Homo sapiens: one gene and its partner. The protein of the gene in region 1 binds, or shares a complex with, the protein of each later gene. Each region holds a gene or a part of one and is shown on either strand. Other genes may lie near its edges. The genes, in order: PNPT1 and SUPV3L1.

The links.
Region 2: PNPT1 (region 1) and SUPV3L1 share a complex: the UniProt entries of both Homo sapiens proteins name them as parts of the mitochondrial degradosome (mtEXO) complex.

The regions. Positions count from the first base shown.
Region 1 is NC_000002.12:55,669,554-55,676,912, reverse strand, and holds part of PNPT1 (polyribonucleotide nucleotidyltransferase 1, mitochondrial precursor), read left to right. Parts: intron 1-3,833; coding exon 3,834-4,020; intron 4,021-4,866; coding exon 4,867-4,918; intron 4,919-5,536; coding exon 5,537-5,594; intron 5,595-7,359. UniProt on the Homo sapiens protein: RNA-binding protein implicated in numerous RNA metabolic processes. Catalyzes the phosphorolysis of single-stranded polyribonucleotides processively in the 3'-to-5' direction. Mitochondrial intermembrane factor with RNA-processing exoribonulease activity.
Region 2 is NC_000010.11:69,204,234-69,209,805, forward strand, and holds the end of SUPV3L1 (ATP-dependent RNA helicase SUPV3L1, mitochondrial), read left to right. Parts: intron 1-3,559; coding exon 3,560-3,708; intron 3,709-4,366; coding exon 4,367-4,802; 3' UTR 4,803-4,860; downstream 4,861-5,572. UniProt on the Homo sapiens protein: Major helicase player in mitochondrial RNA metabolism. Component of the mitochondrial degradosome (mtEXO) complex, that degrades 3' overhang double-stranded RNA with a 3'-to-5' directionality in an ATP-dependent manner.

The DNA of each region.
Region 1 (7,359 bases):
TTATTAAAATATTTAGTCATTTAGTCATCCAAATCTTTTTTTTTTTTTTTGGAGACCAGGTCTCTCTCTGTTGCCGAGGCTGGAGTACAGTGGCATGATCTTGGCTCAGTGCAACTTCCGCCTCCCAGGTTCAAGTGATTCTCTTGACTCAGCCTCCTGAGTAGCTGGGATTACAGGCGTGCACCACCACACCTGGCTAATTTTTGTGTTTTTAGTAGAGACAGGGTTTCACCATGTTTGTCAGGCTGGTCTCAAACTCCTGACCTCAGGTGATCCACCTGCCTCAGCCTCCCGAAGTGCCGGGATTGCAGGCATGGGCCACCACTCCCGGGCAGTCATCCAGATCTTTAGAGTATAATCTTACACGGCAAGAATAGTTACTCCATGCTGTCAGCTGCTGGGTTACTTCAACACCAACATTCTGAACCGTACCATTTAGATGTTTGTTTTCAACTGGTATATTTAATATCACTAATATTTCTGTGTGTGAGAAGATATCGGTCAGGAAAAAGTATACCAGTAACATGTTTTTAGAAGATATTTTGGGTCTAGAATTTATAGCTTCAGCTAATCTCAAAACTCCTTCATCTTCAACTGCTAAAATGGTTGACAGTTTATAGCAATCTTCTTTTTTTTTTTTTTTTTTTTTTGGTTGAGATGGAGTCTTACTCTGTCGCCCAGGCTGGAGTGCAGTGGCGCAATCTCGGCTCACTGCAACCTCCATCTCCAGGTTCAAGCGATTCTCTTGACTCGGCCTCCCAAGTAGCTGGGACTACAGGCGTGCACCACCACACCTGGCTAATTTTTTATTTTTAGTAGAGATGGGGTTTCAACATGTTGGCCAGGCTGGTCTCAAACTCCTGAACTCAGGTGATCCACCTGCCTCAGCTTCCCAAAGTGCTGGGATTACAAGCGTGAGCCACCACGCTGGGCCTATAGCAATCATTTTGACAAGCTTTTATGTTTAAATTTTTAGCATCGATAGCAGTGTTGTCCAGTAGAACTCTGCAGTGAAGGGAATGTTTTATATCTGATCATGTGGCTACTTAGCACTTCAGATGTGGCTAGAGTAACTGAGGAACCAAAATTTTAATTTTGTCTAATTTTAAATAATTTAAATGCAAGTAGCCATATGTGGCTAGTAGTTACCATATTGGACAGCACAGCTCTGTAGACTCAACTGTAAGGAGTGTTCTTTCTTTCTTTCTTTCTTTTTTTAAGACAGTCTCACTCTGTTGCCAAGCTGGAATGCAATGGTGTGATTATACATCACTACAGCCTCAAACTGTGGGGTTCAAACGATCCTATGTCCTCAGCCTCCTGAGTAGCTGGGAATCCAGGCACATGTCACCACACCTGGCTAAAGAAATTTTCTTAGAAAGTATTTTTTAAAAGGAATTGCATTAAAGTTTAATGAGTGAAAACAAAGTTTATTTGGGGGGTATCCATTTTTCTTTGTCATATTCTATTTTTTAAATTTTACCATTATTTTTATTAGATATAGCATCTCATTATATTGCCCAGGCTAATCTCCTGGCCTCAAGCAATCCTCCTGTCCTGGCCTCCCATAGCACTGGAATTACAAGCATGAGCCCCATGCCCAGCCATATTTTTTTTTTTTTTGAATCTGGTTCTCAACTCTCCTCAACTCTATTGTCCAGACTAGAGTATGAGTATAGTGGCGTGATCATGGCTCACTGTAGCCTAGCCTGAAACTGCTGGCCTCAAGTGATCATCCTGCCTCAGCCTCTAGAATAGCTAGGATTACAGGCACACCACCGCAGCTGAGTTTTTTATCTTCTAGTTGTTATCTTTTTAGGGACAGGACCTTGCTGTGTTGCTCAGCCTGGTCCCAGACTCCTGGCCTCAAATAATCCTCCCACCTTGGCCTCCCAAAGTACTGGGACAATAGGCATGAGCCATCACACCTGGCCACATATTTTATTTTTAAAAGCAATTTATTGAGATATAATTTATACCCATTAAATGAATTTTTAAAAATCTCCGGATTAATCCTGTCAAAGTGAGAGGATATCTTGGAAATACAGATGAGAAAAAGAATATAGCCATCTCAGTATCATGGTATCAGAAGAAATTTCTTCAGGCCTGGTGCAAAATATGGAAACCTTATTTCCCTTTACCCTCTCCCATTTGGAATGCAATTGTTATCATTTTCTTCTACAGTTAGAACCATATCAGGCAGTGTTACAATTTTTGCTTTTGCTTCAACTGTCAAACATAATTTAGAAAACTCAAGAGGGAAAGAAAAGCTTATTGCTCTGTATTTACTCTTTTTCTCTATTTATTTATTTATTTTTTTGAGATGGAGCCTCATTCTGTCGCCCAGGCTAGAGTGCAGTGGCGTGATCTCAGCTCACTGCAACCTCCACCTCCTGGGTTCAAGTGATTCTCATGCCTCAGCCTCCTGAGTAGCTGGGACTACAGGTGCACGCCACTATGCCTGGCTAATTCTTTCATTTTTTATAGAGACAGGACCTCGCTATGTTGCCCAGGCTGGTCTTGAACTCTGACTTCAGGTGATCTGCCCACTTTAGCCTCCCAAAGTGCTGGGATTACAGGTGTGAGCCACCACGCTCAGCCTCTATATTTATTCTTAGTTTGCATACTGATTTTCTTTCCTTTCTAACAGTCCACGATGTCTTCTCTTATTTTTTCATTTCTGTTTAGAAAACTTCCTTTAGCTATTTCTAATGCAATAGAAAAAATTCTATTATTCAGTCCTTTAGTTGGCTTACTTGAAACAGGATCACTGCAGAGATTTCCCCATCTGTGCAAGAATTAGACAATGTGAGAATTAATTGTTAAACAGGAAATATTTATTAGATTCCTATTGTGTTACATATTTTTACATTTTATTTAAAATATGTATTGCCAGGAGCGGTGGCTCACGCCTGTAATCCCAGCACTTTAGGAGGCTGAGGCGGGTTAATCACCTGAGGTCAGGAGTTCGAGAGCAGCCTGGGCAACATGGCAAAACCCCGTCCCTACTAAAACTACAAAAATTAGCTGGATGTAGTGGCTCACGCCTGTAATCCCCAGCACTTTGGAAGGCCAAGGCAGGCAGATCACCTAAAGTCACTTTGGCAAATAATATAAACAGTTCACAGAAAAGGACATACATATGGCCTTTTAAAAATATAAAAAGATGCCAGGCACAGTGGCTCACGTCTAATCCCAGCACTTTGGGAGGCTGAGGCAGGCAGATCACAAGGTCAGGAGATTGAGACCATCCTGGCTAACACAGTGAAACCCCATGTCTACTAAAAATACAAAAAATTAGCTGGGCATGGTGGCGGGCGCCTGTAGTCCCAGCTACTCGGGAGGCTGAGGCAGGACAATGGTGTGAACCTGGGAGGCAGAGCTGGCAGTGAGCCGAGATTGCGCCACTGCACTCCAGCGTGGTCAACAGAGTGAGACTCTGTCTCAAAAAAAAAAAAAAAGTATTAAAAACAAATGCACTTGTATACTTTAAAAGATTTAATTTTTATTTTATGTGACTTATAGCTCAATAAAACTTATTTTTAAAATATGTGCATGATTTCTTTTTTTTTTCTGTTTCATTTTTTATGGGAAATCCCTCCTTAAACTTAAGGAGAATGTAAACCTAAATACAGATATCAAGGTGTCTTTATTCATTTACCGCTGCTTACATTTTGGAAGTATGTTGATTCTGAGGAAAGAAATCAAGGTGGATCTATCACTAAGAAGTAAAATTGATCCATAATATTTATGTCATGTCATGGTATTTGAAAATGTTATATTACTAAGAGCTTCGATGGCAGTCATTTTTTTTTTCTTTTTCCTTTAAATAGTCATGTTGGAAGCCTCTGCAGAGAACATTTTACAGCAGGACTTTTGCCATGCTATCAAAGTGGGAGTGAAATATACCCAACAAATAATTCAGGGCATTCAGCAGTTGGTAAAAGAAACTGGTGTTACCAAGAGGACACCTCAGAAGTTATTTACCCCTTCGCCAGAGATTGTGAAATATACTCATAAGTAAGAACATCTGTGCAAATGAAAATATGAAATTGTCATCAGATTTAATTTCCTCGTGGGAGAGAAACTTCCCATGGAAGCACTGCCCATGCATTACTTCATAAATAGCACTTTTCTGTTTTAAGAGTCATTCCCATAAATATCTGCTTACTCCCTTAAAAAGGATAAGCCCACATCACTCTTGTAAGACCTAACTTTGAATCTCAAATGAAAGAGTGTGTTTATTGGTCAAGATTCAGGTAAGCACCACATCTCTCCACGTCTAGGAAAAAGAATAAAACGTTAAGATATTTGAATATCTAAGGAAACTGTTGGAATTCTCAAAAAGAAATCAGAGGTAATCACTGTTACATGCCCAGTGCTTAGAACGTTAGGCAGACACTCAGTAAATGTAAATGAATCACTGGAAAATTATTTTATTTGAAAAAATTGAAAAGGTTAATACTTTCCCTTAATGTCAGTTGCACAGCCATGAGTTGGAAATTAAATTAACTCTTTCTAGCAAAAGAGTTTCATGTGATAATGGAGCCAAAATGGGTAGAATGAAGAAAGGAAGAGGTTAAAAAGAATATATGAAAGGTGAAATTAATTGAACAATTAAGAAGAAAAGAACAGGATACTACATGTGGTTTCCCCTGGGAGGGTGGGAGAAAGAAATTTGTGTTCTATACCATAAATAGTAAACAGATTAGCAATGATAAATAGCAATATAAATTTTCAATTCTTTCTGAAGTATTTATTAAAGTTTTAGCTGATTATTATTAAATATTTCAGTTTTGTTTATAATAGAAACTGCCTCTTGTTTCCAGATATTATTATGCTAACATTTATTTTCTGCTTAAATAGACTTGCTATGGAGAGACTCTATGCAGTTTTTACAGATTACGAGCATGACAAAGTAGGTATACCTGAGTTTTGTCTTCCATAATTGCCCTAGGAATACATTTTTGTCATAACTCATGTAATTTTCTTTATGAATGCTAGTCCTATTTTTATTAAAAATCTCTAAATGAAAAACTAACAAAAGCCTAATTGTTTCTCCATTCTTTTGTTTTGTTTTGTTTTTGAGACAGAGTCTCTCTCTGTCGCCCAGGCTGGTGTGCAGTGGCATGATCTCAGCTCACTGCAACTTTCGCCTTCCAGCGATTCTCATGCCTCAGCCTCCCAAGTAGCTGGGATTACAGGTGCACGCCACCACACTCAGCTATCTTTTGTATTTTTAGTAGAGACGGCCATGTTGGCCAGGCTGGTCTCAAACTCCTGGCCTCAAGTGATCTGCCCACCTTGGCCACCCAAAGTTCTTTTCTTTTTAATATAAGTTTTAGGGGAGTGTACAAATGTATTTGAATGAATTAACATGTAGTATTTGTCATAAATCAAGAACCAATTCCAATATTTTAAAGAATATTAAAGAAATCAGAGTAATTCACAATGTGTTCATTGTATAATAATTAGAAAACAGAAATATTAAATGTTGTCATGTATATGTAATAACTGAACCTCAACTTTCTTTTAGGTTTCCAGAGATGAAGCTGTTAACAAAATAAGATTAGATACGGAGGAACAACTAAAAGGTAAATTTTATTTTATTTTATTTTATTTTTTTGCTGAGGGCAGCTTTAATAAGGCATGGCCTGACTCTTGCTTCTTGGGATTAAAGGTCAAAGAGGAAAGGCATCACATCTGTAGGAAAAGAAGAATTCAAAGGACTTTCAACTTTACAGCTGCTGTTCCCTAGACCTAGAATGCTCTCTCATAGCAGGTGGTCTTCTTCTAACCCAAGGTTCAAATGCCACCTCTTCTCCAAAGCTTCCCCGAACTGTTTCGGGGAAAGAGAAAGTCCCCTTTGCACAGAACCGCTATTACTATGTATTTTTTAATTTTAAAAGCATTAAAAGAAATAATAGACTTTTTTTTTTTTTAACTTTAGTTGAAGATCTCAAATAAATGTTACTCTCATTGCTTCTCAGCTTTATTTTCAATAAACTTGTAATAATGATAGCTCACAAGGTTACTGCTAAATTAACTTCTATGAATGTAGCTAGCACTACATTTGATGCAGAGTAGGTACCTAGTAAATGTTGAATGTGAATGTTCCTGATCTTTTCTGAATCAAACTCCTACCATACAAGAAATGTAACCTGGTATCTTATCATTTGAAAACCCAAATATATTCTTTAAAATTCTTGAGTTCTTGATCTGTGAAATTGCAGTGTTAATAATACCTGGTTTATGGGGATTAAATGAGTGAATCATTTACATCTGTGCCTGCCACACCGTAAGTGTTCAATAAATGTTAACTGATGCTATTCTTAATACCTAGTGGAATCATAAGATACAGAACTTAGGTAATTTAGCTCTCCAGAAATTATTAAGCAAAGGATCTTACTGTATAATATCAACCTCTGGCCAGGCGCGGTGGCTCACGCCTGTAATCCCAGCACTTTGGGCGGCCGAGGCAGACAGATCACGAGGTCAAGAGATCGAGACCATCCTGGCTAATACGGTGAAACCCTGTCTCTACTAAAAATACAAAAAGTTAGCCGGGCGTGGTGGCGGGCACCTGTGGTCCCAGCTACCCAGGAGGCTGAGGCAGGAGAATGGCGTGAACCCAGGAGGTGGAGCTTGCAGCGAGTCGAGATCGCGCCACTGCACTCCAGCTTGGGCAACGGAGCGAGACTCTGTCTCAAAAAAATAAATAAATAAATAAAAATAATAGTAATAATACCAACCTCACACAAACTGAATATAAATGAAGTATGACATAGTTTTTGTTAATTTTTCTAATAGACAAATATACTCTCACATGAATATTTATTTTAAGATAAAAAACTGGCCAGGCGTGGTGGCTCATGCCTGTAATCCCAGCACTTTGGGAAGCCAAAGTGGGTGGATCACTTGAGATCAGGAGTTCAAGACCAGCCTGGCCAATATGGTGAAACCCCATCTCTACCAAAAATACAAAAATTAGGCGGGCATGGTGGCAGGCTCCTGTAATCCCAGCTACTTGGGAGGCTGAGGCATGAGAATCACTTGAACCTGTTAGGCAGAGGTTGTAGTGAGCTGAGACCGCCACTGCACTCCAGCCTGGGCAATAGAGCAAGACTCCATCTCAAAAAAAAAAAAAAAAGTGCTGTTAGCATTGATATTAAGGCCATTAATTGTAACTGTCATTGAATATGTTTAGTCCTTTCTCACTACATTTCATCCTATTTGGTAAGAAAGAAATTTTATAGCGAATATTGTCTTATTTTAAAAGAATAGTGACTTTTTGTTTGTATTATACATAGTAGAATATCTTCACGACCCTCTGGGTTGATAGGATATTTTAAACATTTT
Region 2 (5,572 bases), on another chromosome or scaffold:
ATAACATGTTCTCTCACCTCCCGCCCTATTTCCTCTGCTTTGCATGCTCTCCCCACCCCACTAAACCCAAAGGCCTCCTCTTCTCTGAATCTTGTCCTGACTCACTGAGGTTCACTGCCATTTCCTCTGTAGGCCTGAGCATTCTACATATGAGCTATATTCTAATCAAATCTAGCTCTAAACTTATTTTTTAAATAACATAAATAGTCCAGTGCTGTGGCTCATGCCTGTAATCCCAGCACTTTGGGAGGCAGGAAGGATTGCTTAAGCCTAGGAGTTCGAGAACATCTCCAGCAACATAGCAAGACTCTGCCCTTTAAAAAAAAAATTACATAAATAATACATACATTCTCTTTATACAAAATGAGAACATTACAGATAGCTTAAATGTGGCTCCCTCCCCAATCTTAGTCCTCTGAAATAACTACTTGTGTAAGTTTGTGTGTATCTTTGCAGACTGTTTTTCATTGCGTTTGCCTATGTGCATGTTCATGTGGAAACACTAGATTTGTTGTGAGGGTGCATTTCCCCATAAAAAATTATCTTTTTTTTTTTTTTGAGACAGAGTCTCACTCTGTCGCTGAGGCTGGAGTACAGTTGTGTCATCTCAGCTCACTGCAACCTCTGCCTCCTGGGTTCAAGCGATTCTCGTGCCTCAGCCTCCTGAGTATCTGGGATTACAGGCATGTGCCATGCCTGGCTAATTTTTGTATATTTTGTAGAGGCAGGGTTTCGCCATGTTCCCCAGGCTGGTCACGAACTCCTGAGCTCAAGCAGTCCACCTGCCTCAGCCTCCCAAAGTGCTAGGATTACAGGCATGAGCCATTGTGCCCAGCCCTATCAACGTTATCTTAATGAATTACTCACAACTTGCCTTTTCTTTTTCTCTTAATAATATGTGTTAGAGATCTTCCATGTCCAGATGTTTACCTAGAAAATATGTTTCTTAGAGCTGGCATTTGTGAAAAACTTAGCTAGCATAAGGTTGAAGTTTATGGAACAGTCTTGAACTGCTGTAAACTGACCTGAGTGGAACTCAGTCCCATGGCCTTGGCACCATTCACACCATCCTTTAAACAGCTATTCTAGTGAATAGAAGCTCTTTACTAAGGTGTAGGGAGTCTCTGGAACATGCAGGTCAACAGTTGCTTGTTTTCTTAAGATAAGGTCTCACTATGTTGCCCAGGCTGCAGTGCAGTGGCACAATCATAGCTCACTGTAACCCCAAACTCCTGGGCTCAGGCGATCCTTCCACCTCAGCCTCCTGAGTAGCTAGGACTACAGGTGTGCGCCATGATGCGTGGTGTGTTTTCTTTTTGAGATGAAGTCTCACTCTGTTGCCCAAGCTGGAGTGCAGTGGTATGAGCTTGGCTCACTGCAACCTCCGCCTCCCAGGTTCAGGCGATTCTCCTGTCTCAGCCTCCCGAGTAGCTGGGATTACAGGTGCCCGCCACCATGCCTGGCTAATTTTTTGTATTTTTAGTAGAGATGGGGTTTCACCATGTTGGCCAGGCTGGTCTCAAACTCCTGACCTCAAGTGATCCACCCGCCTTGGCCTCCCAAAGTGCAGGGATTACAGGCATGAGCCACCACACCCGGCCGCTCCGTGTGTTTTCTGTTTAAAAATTAGAATATGAAATCTAGAGGCTTTTCCTTTTTTCCTGATCTTTGTCATTACTGAACTATGAAAGAGCTCAATCACATTAATGACTTAGGATGCCCCTTAGGACTGTGATTTGGAAGCTGTGCTCCATGGAGCTCCTTTAGGGCCAGCTGCTGGATGGATGGATGGATGGATGGATGGATGGGCGGGCATCTCTCCCTGCTCTCTCTGCATAGCTCCTTACTTAGCTCTTTTATGTATTGGGCTTCCACTAGTTGTTTGTGGCCAAAAAAAATAGAGCCACTGCCTTTATAAGATAACTTGAGAACTCATGCTTGGCCTGTCCTGCCTAGCAGGTAGTGTGGTCACATTTCTACCCTTTATGGCTATCCTACTTGGCATTTATTAAACTTAGCAGAGTGGACCAGACTGAATTTAACAAAATTGTGGCATTATTTAACTACAATTGATCTAAAACTGCTCTTCCTCTCTGAAGTATTAACCTTGCTTAGGTTAAGCATTTAGAGATAATTTCCCCTAATCAGGAAATGAATCATTTGAAATCAGCTTGAATCTTGAAGCTGAAGATTTTATTTAAACTCTTGCTTGAGGGGTCTTACTGTGTGGTTGTATGTCTATCTTCTGTAGTACAGGTGATGTATAATATTGCCTAATTCTGGGATGCAACATGGTTTTGAAAGCACATTCCCCAGCAGTGTCTTGTGGTTCAAGACAGGGCTGTGATGTCTCACGTTACCAGTGAGGAAGCTGAAGCAAAGAGTGTTGACTTGGCCAAAGCCACACAGCTCGCAGGAGGCAGATCCAAGATTGACTTCTGACCAGCCTTGCACCAGGCCACCTCAGAGGGTTTCTATATAATAAGGGAGGACAGCCAGGTGCGGTGGCTCACGCCTGTAATCCCAGCACTTTGGGAGGCCGAGGCGGGTGGATCACAAGGTCGGGAGTTTGAGACCAGCCTGACCAACATGATGAAACCCCGTCTGCACTAAAAATACAAAAATTAGCTGGGTGTTGTGGCGGGCGCCTGTAATCCCAGCTACTCAGGAGGTTGAGGCAGGAGAATCACTTGAACCCAGGAGGCGGAGGTTGCAGTGAGCCAAGATCGTGCCATTGCACTCCAGCCTGGGTAACAGAGCGAGACTCCGTCTCAAAAAAATAAAAAATAAGGGAGGACATTAACAAGATAGAGAAACTTAAGCTCGTATTTGAGGTTATAGGACTATTACATATGAGATAGAAATAGGAGTCTTCAGGTACTGTCTGTCCATAGCTTTAGAACATCACATATTCCTAAATAAGAGTTAACAGACTTAGGCCCTGGAAAGTTAGTCCTTCTACAGCTTCTTTTTTTTTTTAACTGCTCCTTGTGGAGCAGGGATACCCTATAGGTAGTGTGCCCAGAGTAGCCCTTGAACTTCTGCTGCACATATTATTACCCTGGTTTTAGAAAAAGAAGGAAATCATCTTTTTTTGTTTTTTCTTTCTCCAAATGGTCTCACTGCTGGAGTGCAGTGGCACGATCATGGCGCACTGCAGCCTTGACCTCCCTGGGCTCAGTAATCCTCCACCTCAGCTTCCTGAGGAGTAGATGGAATCACAGGCACACACCACCATGCCCAGCTAATTCTTTGTGTTTTTTGTATGGATGGGGTTTCTCCATGTTGCCCCAGCTGGTCTCGAACTCCTGGGCTCAAGTGATCTACCCGCTTCAGACTCCCAGAGTGCTGGGATTATAGACGTGAGCCACTGTACCTGGCCTTATAAAGTATTAAATGTTCTTTAAAATGTAGAAGAGTATAAAGGAGAAAAGAAACCACCTGTCTATTGAAATACAACCACAATGTTTTGTTTTGCTTTCTTTTTTTTCTCTTTCTAATTATAGACTTAAGGGAATTCTGACACTTCTCTGAAACCCTTTTCCTCTTTCTCTCTCAGTTTGCCAGGCAGTATAGCAGGAATGAGCCCCTGACCTTTGCATGGTTACGCCGATACATCAAATGGCCTTTACTTCCACCTAAGAATATTAAAGACCTCATGGATCTTGAAGCTGTCCACGATGTCTTGGATCTTTACTTGTGGCTAAGGTACCAACATTTTTCCTTTATGTGCTCTCATTTTTCTAGTAGGACAAATTAAAGGTTTTATGAATTTGTTTTTCTATTTCAAATTATGGACATATTTGCAAGATGCTCTATATTATGTCTATTGTCCATAAAGGCAATTCAACTGATGGAATGGTTTCCCATTCCAAAAATGACTTGAGTTCTTGCAATTCTAGTTAAGATGGCTAGGTGAGAAGGAAGGTCCACTGGACTCCTGCTGGTCAAAGGATGGTCCTTGGACCAAAAGCATTGGTATCACCTGGGAGCTTGTTAGAACTAAGGAGTATCAGGCCCATGCCTGACTTGATCAGATTCTGCATTTTAACAAGATCCCTGGGTGATTCACTTGTACATTATCATTTGAGAAGTCCTGTTCTAGGCCAGTGATTCTCAAAGGAGGGGCATGTCCCTCTCCAGGAGTATATCAGAGTCTATTGAGGTATAGTGCTGACCCACCCTCAGGATGACATATTCCTCCGATATGTGGGGGCAGAAATCAAGGTTGAGCAAAGGCACTGAAGAGAGTTTGCAAAAAGAACATTTAGAATTTATCAATGTCATGATGTAGGTGTGCCATTGAGAGTTGTCCAGTGACTGCGATAAGAGCTGTTGCTATAATGCTAATGTGTCTTTTTCCCAGCTACCGATTTATGGATATGTTTCCAGATGCCAGCCTTATTCGAGATCTCCAGAAAGAACTAGATGGTATTATCCAAGATGGTGTGCACAATATCACTAAATTGATTAAAATGTCTGAGACGCATAAGCTGTTGAATTTGGAGGGCTTTCCATCAGGGAGCCAGTCACGATTGTCAGGAACCTTAAAGAGCCAAGCTAGAAGGACACGCGGCACCAAAGCTCTAGGGAGTAAAGCTACTGAGCCACCCAGCCCCGATGCAGGAGAGCTGTCCCTTGCTTCCAGATTGGTGCAGCAAGGACTCCTCACTCCAGACATGCTGAAACAGCTAGAAAAAGAGTGGATGACACAACAAACTGAACACAACAAAGAAAAAACAGAGTCTGGGACTCATCCAAAAGGGACGAGAAGAAAGAAGAAGGAACCTGATTCGGACTAGTTTTCTGTTCCTGTTTTTTTTTTTTTATTTAATTTTGCAAATAAAAATTTATTTTGAATCCTTTTTCCTCATATGCATTTACTCCCTCCTCTAGTATTGTGGCTATCTGGTACTGGGGGATTTTTGGTGTGTGTGTGTGTTTGTGTGTGTGTTTGTTTGTTTTTTCTTTTTTTGCACAGAAAAATCTCTCTTGATGACTAAACTTGTTTTTTTTTTTTTCAACATTTAGAAAATACTAGGATATCATGGAGGTTTAATTTAAGTCTTTATATAATGGCCATTTGTAGAATAGTACTAAGACAGTGCACTATAAGGAACTCTGCATGGGAATAAAATCACTTTGGTGAATTGTTTGACCAGTTTCCTATGCCATGCTGAGGATGTCATGGATGCAGTTCTTTGACAAACATTGCTGTCTGTTGTACCCATATACCAGAGGCTATTTAGGTGCTGGAAATATGCAGTAAGCAAGACTGACAATCTTCTACCCTCATGGATCTCATATTTGGTAGGAGAGACAGGAACAGGTTAACAAATAAATCCTGTCAGATCGGTGAGGGCAGAGATTGTAGTCTATTTCACTACTGCATCCACAGTATCTGGAATATAGCAGAAGCAAAATCATTCTTTGTGAGATGAATGGGTGTAATTTTAGAGATGAATGCTAGAAAGAATAAGGAAAGAGTGATGCTGAGTGGCAGGGAAGGGCTGTTTTAGGTAGGGTGGTCTTCCCTTGTCCAAAGGCCAGCCTACACTTGTTCAACGAAGTT